2 separate regions of the Homo sapiens genome follow, and region 1 is linked to region 2. The links come from fine-mapping of genetic effects on gene expression. A gene starts in region 2. The other region holds a variant in brackets. All regions are shown on one strand. Distances are from middle to middle. Region 1 overlaps PPFIBP1 (PPFIB scaffold protein 1). Region 2 holds the start of MRPS35 (mitochondrial ribosomal protein S35).

Region 1 (9,641 bases), 28 kb after region 2:
GCAAAGTAAGTCAATTTTAAATTAAATCAGAGCTTTACCATGAGCCCACCATGGACACCACTGCCTCTGAGATTGGGCGCATATTCTGCCAAGTCCACGGAGCGCAGCCACTCCATCACTCGATGGTTAGTCCACTTCTGAACTTCTGATGGGGCGATGGTATTCTATGGGAACACACAACCAGGATCCTAAATATTAAATTGCATTTTCTGTCTAAAAAGTCTGCTCCATGGAGTACAGTTACTCAACAACCCACTAAATGCAAAAAGAAAGGGAAAAATTCTCTTTTAAAGAATTTCTGTCATAGTTTGAGTTTCAAGCTTTCTTATATACTAATAAAGCATTGCTTTAGGAAAGGAAGTCTTTTTTTTTTTTAAGACAGGGTCTAATTCTCTTACCCACGCTGGCGTTGCAGTGGTATAATCAGGGCTCACTGCAGCCTCCATCTCCCAGGCTCAGACGGATCCTCCTACCTCAGCCTCCTGAGTAGCTGGGACCACCAGCGTGCACCCACCATGCCTGGCTAATTTATTATTATTTTTGTAGAGACAGGGTCTTCCTATGTTGCCCAGGCTGGTCTTGATCTCCTGGGCTCAAGTGATTCTTCTGCCTTGGCCTCCCAAAGTGCTGGGATTATAGGCATTGGCCACTATACTTGGCCAGAAAAGGAAGTCTTTATAGTGATATTTATCTCTGTTGATTAGAGTCAGGAAAAAAAAATACACCCAAGAAAAGGAAGAAGCATAACTGAAAAAGAACCCTTGGCTTTAGTTACACAAGGGGAACCGTCATGGAGAGAAAAGGAAGGAATACAGAAAAAGCCTAAGAAGTAAATGAGGCTGGATTTTAAGGCTTTTCCTGCAGGCTCCAAGAAAAATGGCTCTTAGTTTCGACACATGGACAGTCCCATGCCTGGGAAGTGCATGCTTATAAACCTCAATCTTAAAACACTACCTCATCAGATGGCCGCCTCCGTAGACAGTTTGGTTCAAAGTTATTGATCCTCAGGACCTGGATGGCCCTTTTGATACTGAGATGGTGTAGCACACTTACAACCTTCAGAGACAGTAAGTCATCCTGCAAAAAAGAACAAAAGGAGGAGCTCACTGTGCTGGCCTGTAGCAGGAGGACTTTCTTAGGGAATCTCAGAAAACTGGAGTAAAAGGAGAAGAGCCCCTCAAACCAATATGCCCCAAGGTCTTGTCAGAACCCACTTTCCCATTTGGAACAAAATCTTCCCCCAAACCCCAGATTAGTATTTTTTGCCAATGAAGCTGACTTCCACCTGTTTCTCTCTCTTCCAGATGCTCTGAGATCTGTAGAACCCCAGGGCTCTGAAAAACACAGTTAGAAAAGCACTTGCTGGGTCACTACAAAAGGTGATCTGCTTTGACTTGATCTGCACATACTACAAACAGGGAATTTATTTGTTTCCTCTTTAGTTTTGAGAACTTTATCGGTGGATAAAGTACTTAGGCTTTGGATAAACTGCCCTCTCTGTTTCCTTTCAGCAGATAGTGAAGAGCGAATGATGCTCATTGGTGAACATGATCAAGAGTTGGCTTTCTTTTTTCATCTTTTTTTTTTTTGGAGAGATAGGATCTCACTATACTGCCCAGGCTATCTCAAACTCCTAGGCTCAAGCAGTCCCCCGGCCTCAGCCGCCCAAAAAGCTGGGATTACAGGCGTGAGGCACCGCTCCTAGCAAGGCTGGGTTTTCTGAACTAAGGCACATCATAATTTTGGGGAAAATCAGAACAGTGCTCTTATTATACTATTCCCTGACCTTAATAATTCTCTAGTTCTAAATTATTTTTTAGTAAGGACCTGTCTGCTATTGAATAGCTCTAGATTATTATGGTTTATCTAGCAGACATTGTGAACAATTTTGGCACAACTATAATCAATCAGTGCAAAGGTTTTGGTCAGAGTCAAGGAGAGAAGAAAAATGAAGTTATAAGTATCACATATATATATTACCAATCAACCCCTTCAAGGAAGAATTTTCACCAGTCTGTGGCTCTTGGGAATATTTTCAAATATACCAAACACACCAAAACAAATTATTTCAGAAGAAGGTGATATTGGGAGCAGTATGAAGATAAGCAACAGTCTACTTCCAAACACACCCAGAAAATAAACAAGGAAAGCATCCATTTTAGACACACCTTTCTGATAAAACACTTCTCATGAAAGAAAGAAAAAAATGTAATCTACTACAGAAATATTTAATAAAAATATTAATCAGTTTAAATCCTTGAGGCTACTAACCAGGCAAAAATTATTTCCTGAAGTTTTTCTGGAGTAATTCCTTAAAAGTAGTGTCTTAAGACATGTTAGAAAGAGTACTTATTTTAATCTAGGATTGAGACACCCATTCCAAACATTTCAGTCTGGACTCTTTTCATCTAACTAGTCTGTCAGCTTAAAAAAATATCTGAATGCACAATGTTTACAGTGTGATTAAAATGTTAATTATTTTTGAAATTCTTTATACTTCGAAGGATTTTAAAAAGAAAGTTTTATTTTATATCAAAACAGACTTTCTGAGTGATTTTCTTCCCAATTTTTTTAAAACTTTTTATTTTAAAATAATTTTAAATTTGTGGAGGAGTTGCCAAAGATAGAATAGAATTCTGTATACCTTTCACTCAGCCTCCTCTAATGTTAACATCTGACATAATCATGATTACATTCATCAAGACTAAGAAATTAATGTACAATTGACTAAATTGCAGACTTTATTCACATTTCACCAGTTTGTCCAGTAAGGTCCTTCTTCTGTTCCAGGATCTAATCCACATTAAAACACATATTTTGTGACTTAGGATTTCTGGGGTCAAATTTTCCAGGGTCATTTACTCTTTTATAGCCATTTCACAGATGCTTCTTGTGATTTTAAGCTTGAATTTGTTCACATTCTCAGGGGGAACATACTCACACTTAGAGAGGGAGGCAAATATTTACTGAATGTGTTCTAGTCATAATCGTGAGCTATTAAAAGCAGGGATCTTGAAACAGCCTGAGTTCAAACTCTCTATGACTTTCTATTGCTAACTGTGGAAACTTGGTTACCAAGTTACCCAACCTCTCGATTCCTTCCTTTATACATGTAAAAAAGTAGGGATAATAATAGTATTATAATACTATAGATACACAGAGTGTGTGTGTGTGTGTATATGGATACACACACACATATATACAAACATGCATATATGTGTATGTGTGTGTATATATATATATACATACTCTATGTATCTACAGTATTACATATGTGTGTATAATACTATGTATATACAGTATTACATAATTATATAGTATATATGTGAACAAATTCAAGCTTAAAATCACAAGCAGCGTATGTGAAATGGCTATAAAAGAGTAAATGACCCTGGAAAATTTGACCCCAGAAGTCGTAAGTCACAAAATGTGTGTTTTAATGTAGTGTCCTAGATTAGATCCTGGAACAGAAGGAGGACCTTACTGGAAAAACTGGTGAAATGTGAATAGTCTTCAGTTTAGTTGATTGTATTAACATCTACGTTAATTTCTTAATTTTGATGAATGTAATCATGATTACGTAAGATGTTAACGTTAGAGGAAGCTGAGTGAAAGGTATACAGAATTCTAGCTTTGGCAACTCCTCTGTAAATCTAAAATTATCTTAAAATAAAAAGTTTTAAAAACTTTTTAATATATATTATACACACTATAATAATATTAGTAATATTAACTAAAAGGGTTATTGAGAATCCAGTATTAATATGAGCAAAATGCTTAAAAGGATGTTTGACACATAGCAAATGTGCAACATACTACACATATTAGTATTATTTCACGCAGGTTTATGTGATGTGCTCATCAAGGTAAGGGGCTTGGGTTCAATGACAGAGAAGAAAAATCCATGAACTGAACTCCAAATTTTTTTGACATTGAGAAATGCCTACTTAAGTTGGCTGTTTAAAACTTGCTACTTACTTGAAAAAGATTATACTTAGGGTAGTTAGGTCTATAGCCTACTTCACAAAAAGCTGTTTAAATAAAAGAATTTTAGGCCGGGCACAGTGGCTCACGCCTGTAATCCCAGCACTTTGGGAGGCCGAGGCAGGTGGATCTCCTGAGGTCAGAAGTTCCAGACCAGCCTGGCCAACATGGCGAAACTCCATCTCCACCAAAAACACAAAAATTAGCCAGGAGCAGTGGTGTGCACCTGTAATCCCAGCTACTCGGGTGGCTGAGGCAGGAGAATCACTTGAACCTGGGAGGTGGAGGTTGCCATGAGCCAAGATTGTGCCACTGCGCTCCAGCCTGGGCAGCAGAGTGAGACTCTGTCTCCAAAATAAATAAATAAATAAAAGAATTTTAAGTAGAACAAGGCCAGGCTCGGTGGCTCACGCCTGTAATCCCAGCACTTTGGGAGGCCAAGGTGGGTGGATAACGAGGTCAGGAGATCGAGACCATCCTGGCTAACATGGTGAAACCCCGTCTCTATTAAAAATACAAAAAATTAGCCAGGCATGGTGGCAGGTGCCTGTAGTCCCAGCTACTTGGGAGGCTGAGGCAGGAGAATGGCATGAACCCAGGAGAGGGAGGTTGCAGTGAGCCGAGATCGCACCACTGCACTCCAGCCTGGGCGACAGAGCGAGACTCCGTCTCAAAATAAAATAAAATAAAATAAAAATAAAAATAAAAATAAATAAATAAAGAGAATTTTAAGTAGAACATTAATAGTGGTATGGAACCTAAAACAAAGTTCTCCTGGAATCCATCTTTCTCACTGCTGTAAAGCAGGGAATAGTCCTACACATTGGCTGGAGGGCTAGAAATGTACAATAATGAAGGAACCAGAGTAGAAGTCTAGCCTTCCTCCCTCCTCCTTTAACCCCAGTAACTCCTGCTGTAGCAGAACTAGGCTGAAGTGAGACGGGTGATAGGGTTTCAGGTAACAGTTGTCCAGAGTGGAAAGGAGAAGACAAGTCCTTGAAGATGTCAGGTCAAAAGGGTGGCCTCTTCCAAATGGTCATTGCACATAGAAACCCATAACTTAGAGATAGCTTGGGCTTAAAAATTCTACATTCTATTTAAAAAATATCTTTAGGCTGGGC[G/A]TGTTGACTCATGCCTATAATTCCAGCACTTTGGGAGGCCGAGGCAGGCAGGTCGCTTGAGGTCAGGAGTTTGAGACCAGCTGGCCAACATGGCGAAACTCCGTCTCTACTAAAAATACAAAAAAATTAGCTGGGTATGGTGGCGTGAGCCTGTAATCCCAGCTACTCGGGAGGCTGAGGCAGGAGAATGGCTTGAACCTGGGAGGTAGAGGTTACAGTGAGCTGAGATCACGTCATTGCACTCCAGCCTGGGTGACAGAGCGAGACTCCATCTCAAAAGAAATAATACAAAAAAAATCTTTATGAGATATAATTTGCATACCATAAAATGTACCCATTCAAAGTGTACACTTCAGTGTTTACTTTGTTGAATGTATTACATATAAAATCAACCTTCTGGAGAGCTTAGTTTAAATTAGGCTTCACTTAGCTTACATTGGGGTTTCAAATTATCCCAAGCCTGTTCAATCACAATCACCAAATGCTACAACTTCAGCCTCATGGGAAATATGCCTGCCACTCTCCTCAAGTTCAAGCAACAGCTTCAAACTCTGGTGGAATCACTGAAAACACTGTGTTTGGCTTACTCAATTCCTGTGTTTTTCAGAGAAAAAAAGTTTTCCTCCCCCAAACCCCAGGAGTGAGTCACTTACAACAGTCATGTAATGTAGCATTCGACCATCAACCCGTCCTTCATCAAACTGGGTCTTATATTGAGGGAGGCCAATGTCATCCAACCATCCTAAAAGAGAGAGGCCAGTGTTGCTACCATGCCACAAAACATCTGTTCTTGTGATTAAAAAGAAAAAGCAACTATGTATATAATTATTTCATTTTGTTAGAATAAAAACTTCTTACTAGTGACCCAGTTGAAATCCAGCTTCCCATGATTGGTTTCTTCTTCAGATCCCAGGGCTTGGAGTGCTAGCTGGAGTTTCTTTCGATGAAGTGAATGCTTGATTCCAAGTTCCTGAAACAATAAACATTGACTTTATAATTCTATCTGTATAGGCTGGGTGCCACTGGCAAAGGATGCAAATTTCTCCAAAATGAAGCTAGCATTAAAGACCCAATTCAATACTGAATTACAATCCCAACTTGGGCTAGTAAAGTGTTGTTGAACAAAAGGTCCCTGAAAAGCCAAGACCACCACAATTATCTTAGGGGTGTGTTAGGCATTCCCTAGTGACTCATTTTCTTTGTAAGCTAGGAACTGTAGCATGCATAAAAAGAATTTGACTCTTATTTTGTACAAAATATTAAATAATTTGGAAGAAATGTTAAATAATTAGACACAAATTGTAGGGTGCTTTTTTTTTTTCTTTTGCAAAGTGAAGTTAATTGCATATCTTACACTGAGAAAAACAGGCCAATGATAAAGCCAAACAATGATTTCGAGAAATATGAACTGAATTATGCTTATGTAATTCTTTTTCATTAAAATGCCCAATGGCTTAAGTGTTCCATAAGGAATCATCAAGACCAGGTCCTCCCAAGACCACCAGAAAAAAGAAGCATGAAGCAATTGAAAACCCAAACTTTTGTTTACAGAGTTTTTACTGGCTTCACTCATGGCCCTTTCTGGACTATAAAACAACCCTACATTCATACTGTTTTCTTCTCAGTATCCATTGTGTGAACAAAACAGAGAAGCAGTCACCTTCTCTAGATCTTGTTGAGAAGCCTGCAAAAGCGTTTGGCCAGATGCAATCCAGTGCTTGCCAGAATTCAGGTACGAGCCCAAGCCCTGTTCCATCAGCCAATTGCAAACCTGCTCCTTGGTCCACTTGGCAAATGGCATATCCAAGTCACTACAGGAAAATGAGTAATTGCATGAAAAATAATCCAAAGCCAATCCTGTGGCTTATCATTAGTTTTAAACAACTATACATTCAATAGACATGGAAATTCCCTGGTGATACACATTTGACCATGAAAAGCTTAATTTTTAGTATACATTGGAGGAACAACTGGTTGAAAGTTATCTTCTAAGACCACTGTCTTCATTTCAAATGAAACCACAAAAGATTTAACGTGATAGAGCAAGAACAAGTGCTACAGAAAAAGACCAAATTGGACAAACACAAGTCACTGTATCAGTTTTAACCAATGTTGTTTGAAGATTGGATTCCCAAACAGGAAACTCAGTTGGACTGAAAGAAACTTAAGTCTAATTTGAACTAACTTTAGCAGAATTATGGTTTCTTTCCATATGGTAACCAATGAGAAGAGGGCAATATGTTGTCACTGAGTGTAGGAAACAATCAAAGCAAAATTCCTGTTTTCTTTTACTTAGATACACAAATAGTGTTCTTGTTCCGGGGTGGGGGCAGGGTGCGGAGGGGAAGATGAATGGTTTTTTTTAAATAGTACAAGGAGCTCTACTGTGTTCAAAGACAACATATGGCAAATGAAACTGTTTGGTATTTGAAGAAGGCCAAAGAGAGTTTCCTCCTTGATGTAACCTATGTCCAGTGTTCCACCTGTATGGGAGGGGCTATATGTAAAGGGTTTCTAGTCAGTCTATTATACTGTTAAAAGATTTGGTATCAATGTCTTGTACTTTATGTTTGCCAACCCCACCCTCTTATGCACAGTGAGTCAATGTAGTAGTTCTAAGCCAGCCCTAAACTTTGGTTAAGAGTGTCAGAGCAGTTCTTAGAATCTTAATGGATAAAATATTATATAGTCCTGATAAATACAAGGATTCTGATAGCATTTTTGTCTTTAAGTGCTTTCATAGATTCTGTTACATGCTAATGTTTCTTGAGTAGTTATTATCTGCCAAATATTTAACACATATTAACTTATTTAACCTTCATGGTCAGCTTTTGGGGTAGGTACTAATTATGATGATGAGGAGACTGAGGCACAGGGTGTGGAAGCTGTTGCTCAAGGTCACCCAGCTGGTAGAAAGTGGTAAGGCCAGAAAGCAAATCCAAGTGGTCTGATTCTAGAACATACTCTTAACCACTATGCTATCCCATCTTTCCAAAGTTATGCTTTAGAGTACTTGTAATTACCATCTACGTAAAATTTAAGTCTGAGAGCCATTCTAACACAGATGCTGCTGACACTTTAGCTCTGGCCTCTCCCCTAGTTCGCACAGCCCTCACCTTCTGTTTGTTCATCAACCATTGACAAATTGCACGGCTCTAAAGATGATGGCCCCTTTCATTAGGCACAGCATTAAGCAATGACTTTGTTTAACCCAATGACAGTACTAATACTGCAGGACTCATGAGGCTATGATGCTTGGTAGAGATGCAAAAGTCTATCAGTTGGCTCTTCTTACCTGTTAGACTGTCCCAAGTCTCGAGACCAACCTAATCGGGGCCCCGCGGTTGCCCTTGTCCCTCCTCTTTTGAATTCAGGCTCAGACATGTCATCTGGGTTGAATGTAGTTGATTGACTTCTCCTAAGTCTAAAGAAGACAACACACATGGCCAGTATTAGACCTGAGGAGGCCTTAGACTTGTTAATCAGAACATTTTTAACTAGTGCACCTACTGGAACTAATCCTCTTTGTGTTGTTAACATAGACATTTAAATTTAAACTTTAACTAAGACCCAATGAGTTAATAAATCCCACATCACAATCCAAACTTCCTTCCATAAGAGGAATACAAAGGCCTTACAAAGTCCATACCCATGTCCAGCCACTTTTAAGCAACATGTAAGACAGGGCCCATTCCACTTGTTTACTGCTTTACTTACTTTCCAAAGAGTTTCATGATACCTCTGGATTTCTTTTTGGAATCTGGAGATGGAGGCGGTATCTGGAAGGGACTGTTCCTCTGTGAATCTTTTGGCCGAGAAGAAGCACCAGCCAGATCTAGGTGCTCTGCTGTCTCTTTTTCTGTTTCAGCTACTCCAAGAGCAGAATGCAGACAATGAATTTTAAAATATGGAATAAACATGATGTTAATCTTCTTGGTTCTAGAACTGTTAAGAATTCTTCTGTTGGTCTATAATCAGTGACTTACAAAGAGCACCTTGTAAATATTAGAAATGGAACACACATATACGTTCTGCTCCATAGTTTACTGTGTGTAAACTTAATAAAATTACAAGCCCTTTGGAGATTAAAAGAATGTGATAGGATTGCCACATTCTTTCCTTGAGTGATTTCAATTCATAATGGAATTATTCCCAATCTTTCCATAGCACGTGGTACTGTTGATTACCTGCTACATCCTTCAAAATCATCTCCTTTTGCTTCTTGACATGACCACTCTCCTACATCTGTCATCTGATAGTGTCTTTGCTGTAGCACCCCTGCTTTTTTTTCTTCCCCCATGCCACTTTAAGATTATATTCTAAATGCCCTCTAGAGGATCAGAATCTCTGGGCCTAATCTCTCTCTCTAGGCTCTGTATCTAAATGCCTGTGATATTCCCAATTCAGTGTGTCGGGACATCTGGGACTTCACAAACTCATCCAATTTCCCCGAGAGTCTTTTTCTCTCTTAAATGTTTTTTTTTTTTTTTTTTTTTTTTTGAGACAGAGTCTCACTCTGTTTCCCAGGCTGGAGTG
Region 2 (9,641 bases):
TAGTATTTTAAATATAAACACATTCTTTAATTCTTAAAGAATTTTAATTTTAAAGCAAAAAGCTACAATTACAAGAAATAGAAGCAAAATTGCAACATATGTAAAATCTGACCTCCCACAATGCTGCTGCTGTCCAAATTTTAAAAACAACACTAAATCTACCTAAATATCTCTGCACTGTTTCTTCAAACCCTCTGGCAAGGATCCCCTTTAATATCACATTTTCTTCACTAAAAATTTCTTTAACTGGACTTTTAGCAAAATTTTTACATTTTGCTTATGAAAGGGTGAATTAACAATACATTTTGAAATAATTTTTCGAACTTCTTTGATGGAAGTCAGTAGTACATGAGGGGGCGTTAAGTACTTGGAAGTAAAAAGAAAAGGAAAAAATAATTAGGGTTAAACTGATTGAATAAATATATAATGAAAAATTATATGTCTCCTAGGCCCAGAGAAAAACTAGTACTTGATAGCTTAGTCAATCACATTAACATTTATTTTTAATGGCATCAAATACGAGGGGATGGCCCACATACAAAAGTAGGGTTTATAGTGGCAAAATTCAGCCATGCCCCGCCTACGCAATATCAAAACCAGTGTAGTCAATATCCTAGAAGCAGGTAATAGTCCTGAGGAAATGACTGCTCTTAATGATTGTAATTTGATACCATTTAACTTCCAACTAATGTGTCTTTGTTCTGACACTATTGCTCACCAACTGACCTTATCGTTTAGATTCCTCCATAGAAGTAAGGAATCCAAATGTCCACAGGGTGAGACTCAACTAGTTAGAATACGGCCAGGTGCCGTGGCTCATGCCTGTAATCCCAGCACTTTGGGAGGCCAGGTGCAGTAGCTCACGCCTGTAATCCCAGCACTGAGGCGGGTGGATCACCTGAGGTCAGGAATTCAAGACCAGCCTGACCAACATGGTGAAAACCTCTCTCTACTAAAAACACAAAAAATTAGCCAGGCATGGAGGTGTGTGCCTGTAGTCCCAGCTACTTGGGAGGCTGAGGCAGGAGAACCACTTGAACCCGGGAGGCAGAGGTACCAGTGAGCCAAGACTGCACCACTGCACTCCAGCTGGGCAACAAGTGGGAAACTCTATCTCAAATAAATAATAATAAATAAATAAACAAACTAGTTATATTAATGCATAAGTCCCAGGCTGCAGGACTTAAGATAGCATTAGAAATTGTTCCATATTCTGGTTTATACACCTGTTTCCTGGGAGTTCCTCAGTAAGTCAACCTCTCAAAGATCATCTATTCTCTGGGTACTGACAAAAAACAAAGACTAACCTCTGCCAGGGCTATGGCAATCACCCAGTAAACATGACCTTGTGAAGTCTTCTCTGGTAACACCCTTCTGCCTTATAATGAATATCTGCCTCATTTTAGAACTCCAGAAACCATTAAGATAGTAGAGTATACGAACTTTTTACCTTTCTTCTTGGTGGCCTTTCATTTCCGGGTGTTCTTTCCGCTGTACGTAAAAGATAACACAGTAGTTAAAGAGAATTTTATCATGTCAAGTTAGTTGTTCAACATCAATCATGATCCCATTATTCTAACACAATTTAAGGTATTTAGTAACATAACAATGAAACAATCTTTTTTTTTTTTTTTTTGGTAAGCTCAGGGACCAAAATCATCTTAATGAAGACTAAAAACTGGAAACAGAGGGAGTCTCGGCGTATCACCCAGATTGGATTGCAGTGGTGTGATCTCGGCTCACTGCAACCTCTACCTCCGGAGTTCAAGTGATTCTCCTGCCTCAGCCTCCCAAGTAGCTGCGACTACCAGTACACCCCACCACACCTGGCTAATTTTTGTATTTTTAGTAGAGATAGAGTTTCACCATGTTGGCCAGGCTGGTCTCAAACTGCTGACCTGAAGTGATCCGCCTGCCTCAGTCTCCCAAAGTGCGGTGGGCAGGTGTGAGCCACTGTGCCTAGCCCCAGTAAGGAAAATTCTACAGTTATTTGAATTGCAGATACAGTGAATTCATTATCTAAAAAATGACTCTTACAGAGTCTGTCAAGTAAGACAACTTTTTAACAAATAATTTCAATAAACAGTGATAAATATTATGAACACATATAGCAGGGAACGAAACCTAGTCAATTAGTTTGTATGACGGTGAATTTTTTCTTTTTTCTCTTTCTTTCTTTTTTTTTTTTTTTTTTTGAGACAAGGTCATCTCACTCTCGCCCAGGCTGGATTGCAGTGGTGCAATCTCGGCTTACTGCAGCCTCGAACTACCAGGTTCAAGCCAATCCTTCTACCTCAGCACCCCAAGTAGCTAGGACTAAAGACATGAGCACACCCGGCTAATTCTTGTAGAGACGGTGTTTCGCCATGTTGCCAGGCTGGTCTCAAGCTCTTGAGCTCCAGCGATCCACCCACCTCAGCCTCCCAAAGTGCTGGGATTACAGGGGTGAGTCACTGTGCCCAGCCATGATAGTTAACTTTGTGTCAATTTGACTGGATTGAGGAATACATAGACATGTGGTAAAGCATTATTTCTGGGCATGTCTGTGGGGATGTTTCCAGGAGAGACAGGCATTTGAGTCAGTGGACTGAGTGAGGAATACCTGCTCTCAATGTGGGTGGGCATCATCCAATCAGCTGAGGGCACAGAAAGAACAAAAAGGCAGATGAAAGAAGAATATATTCTCTCTCTCTCTCTTCTGGACCTGGGACACTCTTCCCCTGCCCTTGGACATCAGAACTCCAGGTGCTCCAGCCTTTGGACTCCAGGAACTTGTACACGCAGCCCCCTGAGTTCTTAGGCCTTCAGCCTTGGCCTGAAAATTACATGGCTTCTGTGGTTCTGAGGTTTCTGAACTTGGACTGACATGGGCTTCCAGCTTGCAGACAGCCTATTGTGGGGTGAGTCAATTCCCCTAAAAAATCCCATCATATGTCTATATATCTACATCTACATCTATCCTATCCTACATCTACGTTCTGTCTCTCTGGAAAACTCTAATCAGTTGGGGAAAATCTCCCTGAGAAAGTGAACTTTAAGCTAAAACCTGAAAGATGAGCAGGACGTAGCCATGAAGACAAGCAGGTGAGAAAAAGTGTTTTGACAGAGTGAGAGCACATGGAAAATCAAAGTGAACAAATTCAATATGGCTGAAATTTAAGAACAGAACAGAGAGAGACAGAGAGAAAAGAGGCTGAAGGCACTTAACAGGCGTCTTAACTATAATGCATCCTTAGCAGAACTTTTTTTCTTTTGAGATAGGGTCTCACTCCCGTCACCCAGGCCGGAGGGCAGTGGTGCGATTACGGCTCACTGTAATCGACTTCCCAGGCTCAGGTGATTCTCCCACTTCAGCCTCTGGAGTAGCTGGAACTACAGGCATGGGCCACCACGTCTGGCTAATTTCTTGTATTTTCAATAGAGACGAGGTTCCGCCATGTTGCCCAGGCTGGTCTCAAACTCCTGGGCTCAAGGGATCCGCAGGCCTCGACCTCCCACAGTGCTGGGATTACAGGAATGAGCCCCCACACTCAGCCCCTTGGCAGGGCTTTTGATTTTCTTCTTCCAGTCTTCCCAATTCGTGTACATGGAATCATCATTCATCCAATTGCTCAGAACAAAAATGTAACAGGATTTTTTTGAGACTTGTCCTCAAGCCCCACATCAAATCCATCAGTAAATCCTATGAACTTTACCTTCAAAATATATCGCAAATACAACCACACCTCCTTCTCCACTATTACTTTAATCCAAGTCACCATCACCTCATTTGGATTACTGCAACAGCCTCCAAACAGATCTTTGGCTTCCACTCTTACCCCAGTAAAGCAGCCAGTGATCTTTTAAAAACGTAAATCACATTATATCAGTTCCCTGTTCCAAGCCTTTCAATATAAAACCCAAGCCAAAAATCCAAATGAAATGTCTACAAACTCTTGAGAGATCAGATTATTACTTAACTAACTCTCTGACGTCTTATACTACCACTCTCTCCTCTACTCACACTTAGCTCCTGCCACATTGTCCTTCTTCCCGTTCCTTGATCACACCCCTCAGATTGTTCTCAACTTTTGGCCTTTGCACTTATAGTTCCCCATACCCCAAAGGCTCTTTCCCCATATCTCTGCATGGCTTGGGGCCCTGTTCAAATGTCACTTCCTCAGAAAGATCTTTCCTGACCATCCTGTGGCCACTACTCCCCCCAAATCCATCATTCTCAATACTCTACTTTATTTTTCTTCAAAGCATTAAACCCTATCTGACATCTTATTTAGTTGTTTGGTTGTTTATACTATTGACTTCCCCACCTTGCCGTATCTCCGGTGAGTGTCTAGAACACTGCATGGTATACAATAGGAGTTAAGTATTCCAAGAATTTAAGAATGAAAATTTAAAAATAGACAATTATTAGACCTATGAAGAGCCAGTATGAAGGATTAATGTATTTATAGTTTATCTGAAAACAATGGGAAACCATTTGTAGATCTTGAACATGAGAGCAGCAAGACAAGATCTAAATTTTGAAAACCTCATTTGGCTGTTTTGAGAATTCAATGTAGGAGAGCAAGAGGGGAAACAGGAAACGGAAAAAAAACTTGTAGAAATGAGATGGTCACCTGAACTAGATAGTTGGTAGTATGAGGAGAGTAAATTAGAGATATAACAGGAAGTAGCACAGGTAGGATCCGCCTATTGATTAGACTCACGCCAGCTCCTCCTCAACGCTCCCGTCATTCTAGCCACACTTCTATCACAGCGCCTCTCACCCTACATAGCACTTCTCCGCTAATAAATCTGTATTTTCCACTAGAGTCCTCCGGGGTAAGCACGCTATCAAGCATCCCTACAATCTCTGTTAAATGGAGGTCATCAACGCCTGTTGAATGAAGGCCGCCCATTTGGTGGCCTGGAATTCAGAGCAGCAATTTGTCCTAGCACAGCCGTATGACTCTCTTAATGTTTGGGGAAATCCATGGTTCAACAGCGCCGATGCCCGATAAACAACACAGCACCAGTAACCTGTGCCAGGGGCTGTGGACGGGGGCAACACAGGAGCAGGTCACGGGGAAGGGGGATGTAAGCTTTCTGAGCAAACTCCCAGAGCACCCAGGGCAGAAACAGGCGGCTAGAAGCCGGGCAACGCGGGTGCAGAGCACAGACCCACGTCCATGGTTTTCCTACCAGACGGGCCTGGCAGCGGACGCACTGGCCTCCCCCGGGCGGCGCTGGCTCAGCCACCGCGGCACCCTTCATGAGGCCGGTATTCCGCTCTTGCACCTCCCCCAAAGCCCAGAGAAGACGAGACAGACACTCACGCAGGCTAGGTGTCGGGACCGGAGTGGCCGAGTAGACGGCAGTGGAGAATGCACGCAGAGTCCTTGCCCTCGACTGCAGAGACAGCCATGCTGGGAGCGCGGCGGCCGCCATGGCTGCGAGGACGGCAAGCCGGAGGGGACAAGCGGCGTTCAGTGTCAGGGGCGGGCCTGGGGCCGCTAAGCGCAGGCTCCCTGGGCTGGCACCGCCCTAGGCTGGAGAAAGAGGAAACACGTTGGTCTGCGCACTCAGAGCCGAGTCAAATGTGCAGGAAGATTCCCCCAAACTGAAAGAAGTAATGAAAAGAAAACAAAAAAAATCCTTAAAAATCGAGTGAATCAGTTCGTAGAGAATTGCAGATAAAGACCGTAGGGATAGGGGTTGCGGCTCACTGAAGGCGGGCGTGCTCTGGGTGGAACCTCAGTTGATCCGAGAGTCAGGCGGTCTACCCGAGGGACTCTTGTTATTTATAATTGTTGCTTTTCTACATTTACTTGGATTAAAGAAGTCTTCAACTAATGCCAGTAATATGCGCTAAGGGGAGAGAAGCAGTATCCCGAGCCAGAGTGCTTGGGTTTCAAACTTGACTTCACCACTTCTGGGATGTATGATCTCAGACAAGTTAGCATAGACAAATATTTGTGTACAGCGTTGGCATACAGTGAACACCGCGTGTACGTAGCCTATAACTTTTAGCTATATATGGTTAGCTTGTTGTTAGATCAGCTTAGAATTACAGAAAGTCAGAACTCATCAGGACCTAGAAAATAAACTTTTAATGAACACTCTTAAATTTTCTACGGTAGGATGAATTAACATACAAGCCTTAATAAAACAATTCTCGGCCGGACGCGGTGGCTCGCGCCTGTAATCCCAGCACTTTGGGATCCCGAGGCGGGTGGATCACCTGAGGTCAGGAGTTTGGGACCAGCCTGACCAACATGGAGAAACCTGGTCTCTACTAAAAATACAAAATTAGCCGGGTGTGGTGGCACATGCCTGTAATCCCAGCTACTCGAGAGAAGAATCGCATGAACCCGGGAGGCAGAGGTTGCGATGAGCCGAGATCGCGCCATTGCACTCCAGCCTGGGCAATAAAAGCAAAACTCCGCCTCAAAAATAAAATAAAATAAAATAAATTCTCTATTTTCTCTTTATTTTAAAAATTATTTTAATTAATTAATTAATTATTATTATTTTTGAGACAGAGTCTTGCTCTGTTGCTAGGCTGGAATGTGGTAGCAGGACCATGGCCCACTGCAGCCTTGACCTCCCAGGCTCAAGTGATCCTCCTACCTCAGCCTTTCAAGTAGCTGAGGCTACAGGCACGCACCACCACACCCAGCTAATTAAAAAAAAAATTGTTTTTCCAGAGATGAGGTCTCACAGTGTTGCCAGGGCTGGTCTCAAACTCTTGGGTTCAAGCGATCCTCCTGCCTTGGCCTCCCAAAAAAGTGATAGGACTACAGGCGTGAGCTACTGCACCTGGCCTATTTTTTCTATTTTTAAGTTTTTTGTAGAGTTGGGGGTCTTGCTATGTTGTCCAGGCTGGTCCCAAACTCTTGGCTTCATGTGATCCTCCTGCCTTGGCCTCCCAAAATGTCGGGATTACAGGCATGGGTCTGGCCTATTTCCCTATTTTGTCTCAAAGTGACAAAATTATAACAGTAAAAACAACTAAAAATAAACAAAACCGATTCTTGGTAAGCATACAACCAGTAGAGCAGAGGTATGCAGGTGTCCAAGAATATTCTAGCTGTGAACATTCAGTGCGCCATGGACATCAATCAGTAAGGTATGGGAGGGGGACAAATAGCATGAGATGGACAAGTATTTGTAATATTCATCATCTTCATCTTTTCTGGACTTTTACCATCCTGTTATTGTTCCAAAATAGAAGCATGATGTATGAGTTTCCTAGGGGATTGGAACAAAGTACCGTAAACTGGGTGACTTAAAACAACAGAAATTTCCTCTCTCACAATCCTGGAGTCTGGAAAGTCCAAAATCCAGGTGTCGGCAGGGTTGGTTCCTTCTGGAGGTTCTGAGGGAGAATCTGTTCCATGCCTCCCTCCTAGCTTCTAATGGTTGCTGGCACTCCTTGGCTGGTAGACACATCACATCACATCACCTTCTGCCCCCATATTCCAATGGAGTTCTCTCCTCTCCTCGGACTATTTTTAAGATCAAAATCATGGCCTTTTTAATCAGATGGAGGTGAGGTTTGAATCCAGGCTCTGGTTCTTTATGATTTTGGGCAAATCTACCTTATCTTTCTGAGTTTCAGTTTCAAGGAAAATGACAGCAATAATATTTTTCTTACGACAGTCGTGATTAAAGGCATAAATATAAACGGTGGGCATTGGCATTAAGTGTAGGGTCAATGCAACAGCCTCCTTTTCTTGCAAGTTTGTATATTTTAGTAAAGTGCAAGTCCTATACCATAGAAATTTAGGGACAAAAGGAGTATGATCATATTCATACTGTTACCAGCGGCAAATCTGTACAGGTCTGCGGCAACCTCAATTCTTGCCTCCTCAGAAGAAAGAATTTGATCGAGGAACATAAGGCAGAAGGAGAGACAGAAGCGACTTTTAGAGCAGGAGTGAAAGTTTATTAAAAAGCTTCACAGCAGGAACAAAAGGAAGGAAATACACTGGGAAGAGGGCCAAGTGGGCGACTTGAAAGTCAAGTACCCCATTTGACCTTTGACTTAGGGTTTTATACGTTGGCATACTTCTGGGGTCTATGTCCCTTCTCCCCTGATTTTTCCCTTGGGGTGGGCTGTCTGCATGCACAGTGGCTTGCCAGGACTTGGGAGGGGAGCATGCATAGTGTGTTTATTGGAGTCGTATACATGCTTACTTGAGGCATTCTTCCATTAGCAGTTGCACGTCCCTAGAAGATCAAATACCAGTTAAATTCTGCCATTTTGCTTCTTAATGTGCACGCTTGCGCACACTCACCCAGCTCCTGAGATCTTACTGGAAAGTTGCTGATCACTAGTTTCAGGTTTTTTGTATCTATTGGGAGAATGCTATTCCCTGGTGCTGGCTGCAACCAATTATTGTTTTAGAAAGACAGTTAATAACCACCTGACCGTCACCTGATGGTCGCCTGAAATTCCTGGGGTGTGCGTGTGTGTGTGTGGAGGGGGGTGTGTGTATAAGGGGAGCCCTCTCCTGCCCTGCTCATTCATGACTAGCTACCTACTCTAACAATATTTCTTAATTTCTGAGCAAGATATTAAAGACATAGGTCCCCATTCTACCTTGCTATGCGTTCTATCTTTTGTTGTACTCTCTCCCTAAGACTAAAGTGGATAGATGACCAGAGCTAGAGGAGCCAGAAAAATACTTATTGTTTTCCGTGGCATCAAGTACAGTAAGTTTCATTCTATAGTAAAAGTTAAAAATTCATTCATAATGCTATTAATGCTATCAACAAGCAAAAATATCTGTCTTGTGCAGTGTAAAGAGTAAAGCATGTACTATCTTGCACATAGGGGTTACTAAGATTACATAATTTTTCACTTGGCAGTGATCTTAGAGGTGCAATCATTCACTCACGATAAAAATATTTTCTTTGCTGGGTGCAGTGGCTCACTCCTGTACTCTCAACATTTTGGGAGGCTGAGATAGGGGAATCACTTGAGCTCAGGAGTTTAAGCCCAGCCTGGGCAACATAGCAAGAGCCTGTCTCTACAAAAAATACAAAAATTAGCCAGGCATGGTGATGTGTGCCTGTAGTCCCAGCTACTGGGGAGGCTGAGGTGGGAGGATCACTTGAGCCCAGGAGGCAGAGGTTGCAGAAAGCCGAGATAGTGCCACTGCACTCCAGCCTGGGCGACAGAGTGAGACCTGTCTCAAACAAACAAAAAAAATATTTTCTTCAAACTTTGTGACCATGTAATCTAACACATCATAGAAGCTAGGCTGGCTTCATAGACATACAACGTGCCTGCGCTTGGCCTAATGCTTTGCTGTTGCTGTCTTAAAATTCTTAATACTTTTTTTAACAAGGAGTCCTGCATCTTCAGTTTGCACTGGAACCTACAAATTATGTAGCTGGTCCTGTGTAGAACAATTTTAAATATTAAGCTGTCTTACAATTGGTTTTTATTATATTTAAACCTGAATTAATTCAATAAAAGCTACTTTTTAATTTTTTATCTTTATGGATACATAGGAAGTATATATATTTATGGGGTATATGATATATATTGATACAGACATAAAATGTATCATAATCACATCAGGGTAAATGGGGTATCCATCACCTCAAGCGTTTATCCTTTGTATTAAAAAGCTACTTTTAATCAAAACTAA

Evidence for each region. PIP is the estimated chance that this variant, and not a neighbour inherited with it, causes the effect.
Region 1: its variant is fine-mapped to the expression of MRPS35 in fibroblasts (GTEx, PIP above 0.99).

The regions. Positions count from the first base shown.
Region 1 is chr12:27,678,821-27,688,461 of GRCh38, reverse strand. It overlaps PPFIBP1 (PPFIB scaffold protein 1), which reads right to left. Exons shown (of 30, transcript NM_003622.4): 20 at 8,823-8,973; 21 at 8,401-8,529; 22 at 6,766-6,916; 23 at 5,964-6,075; 24 at 5,759-5,847; 25 at 955-1,077; 26 at 39-164. Among named protein-coding and RNA genes, the nearest start is that of REP15, 13 kb to the left of the region's middle. The variant G/A (reference allele first, on the strand shown) is at 5,106.
Region 2 is chr12:27,706,630-27,716,270 of GRCh38, reverse strand. MRPS35 (mitochondrial ribosomal protein S35) reads right to left here and starts at 5,439. Exons shown (of 8, transcript NM_021821.4): 1 at 5,316-5,439; 2 at 1,451-1,491. The coding sequence starts at 5,427. It overlaps MRPS35-DT (MRPS35 divergent transcript), which reads left to right and starts at 5,524. Exons shown (of 5, transcript XR_001749448.2): 1 at 5,524-5,608. RefSeq lists enhancers at 5,019-5,808, 5,819-5,898, 5,929-6,008.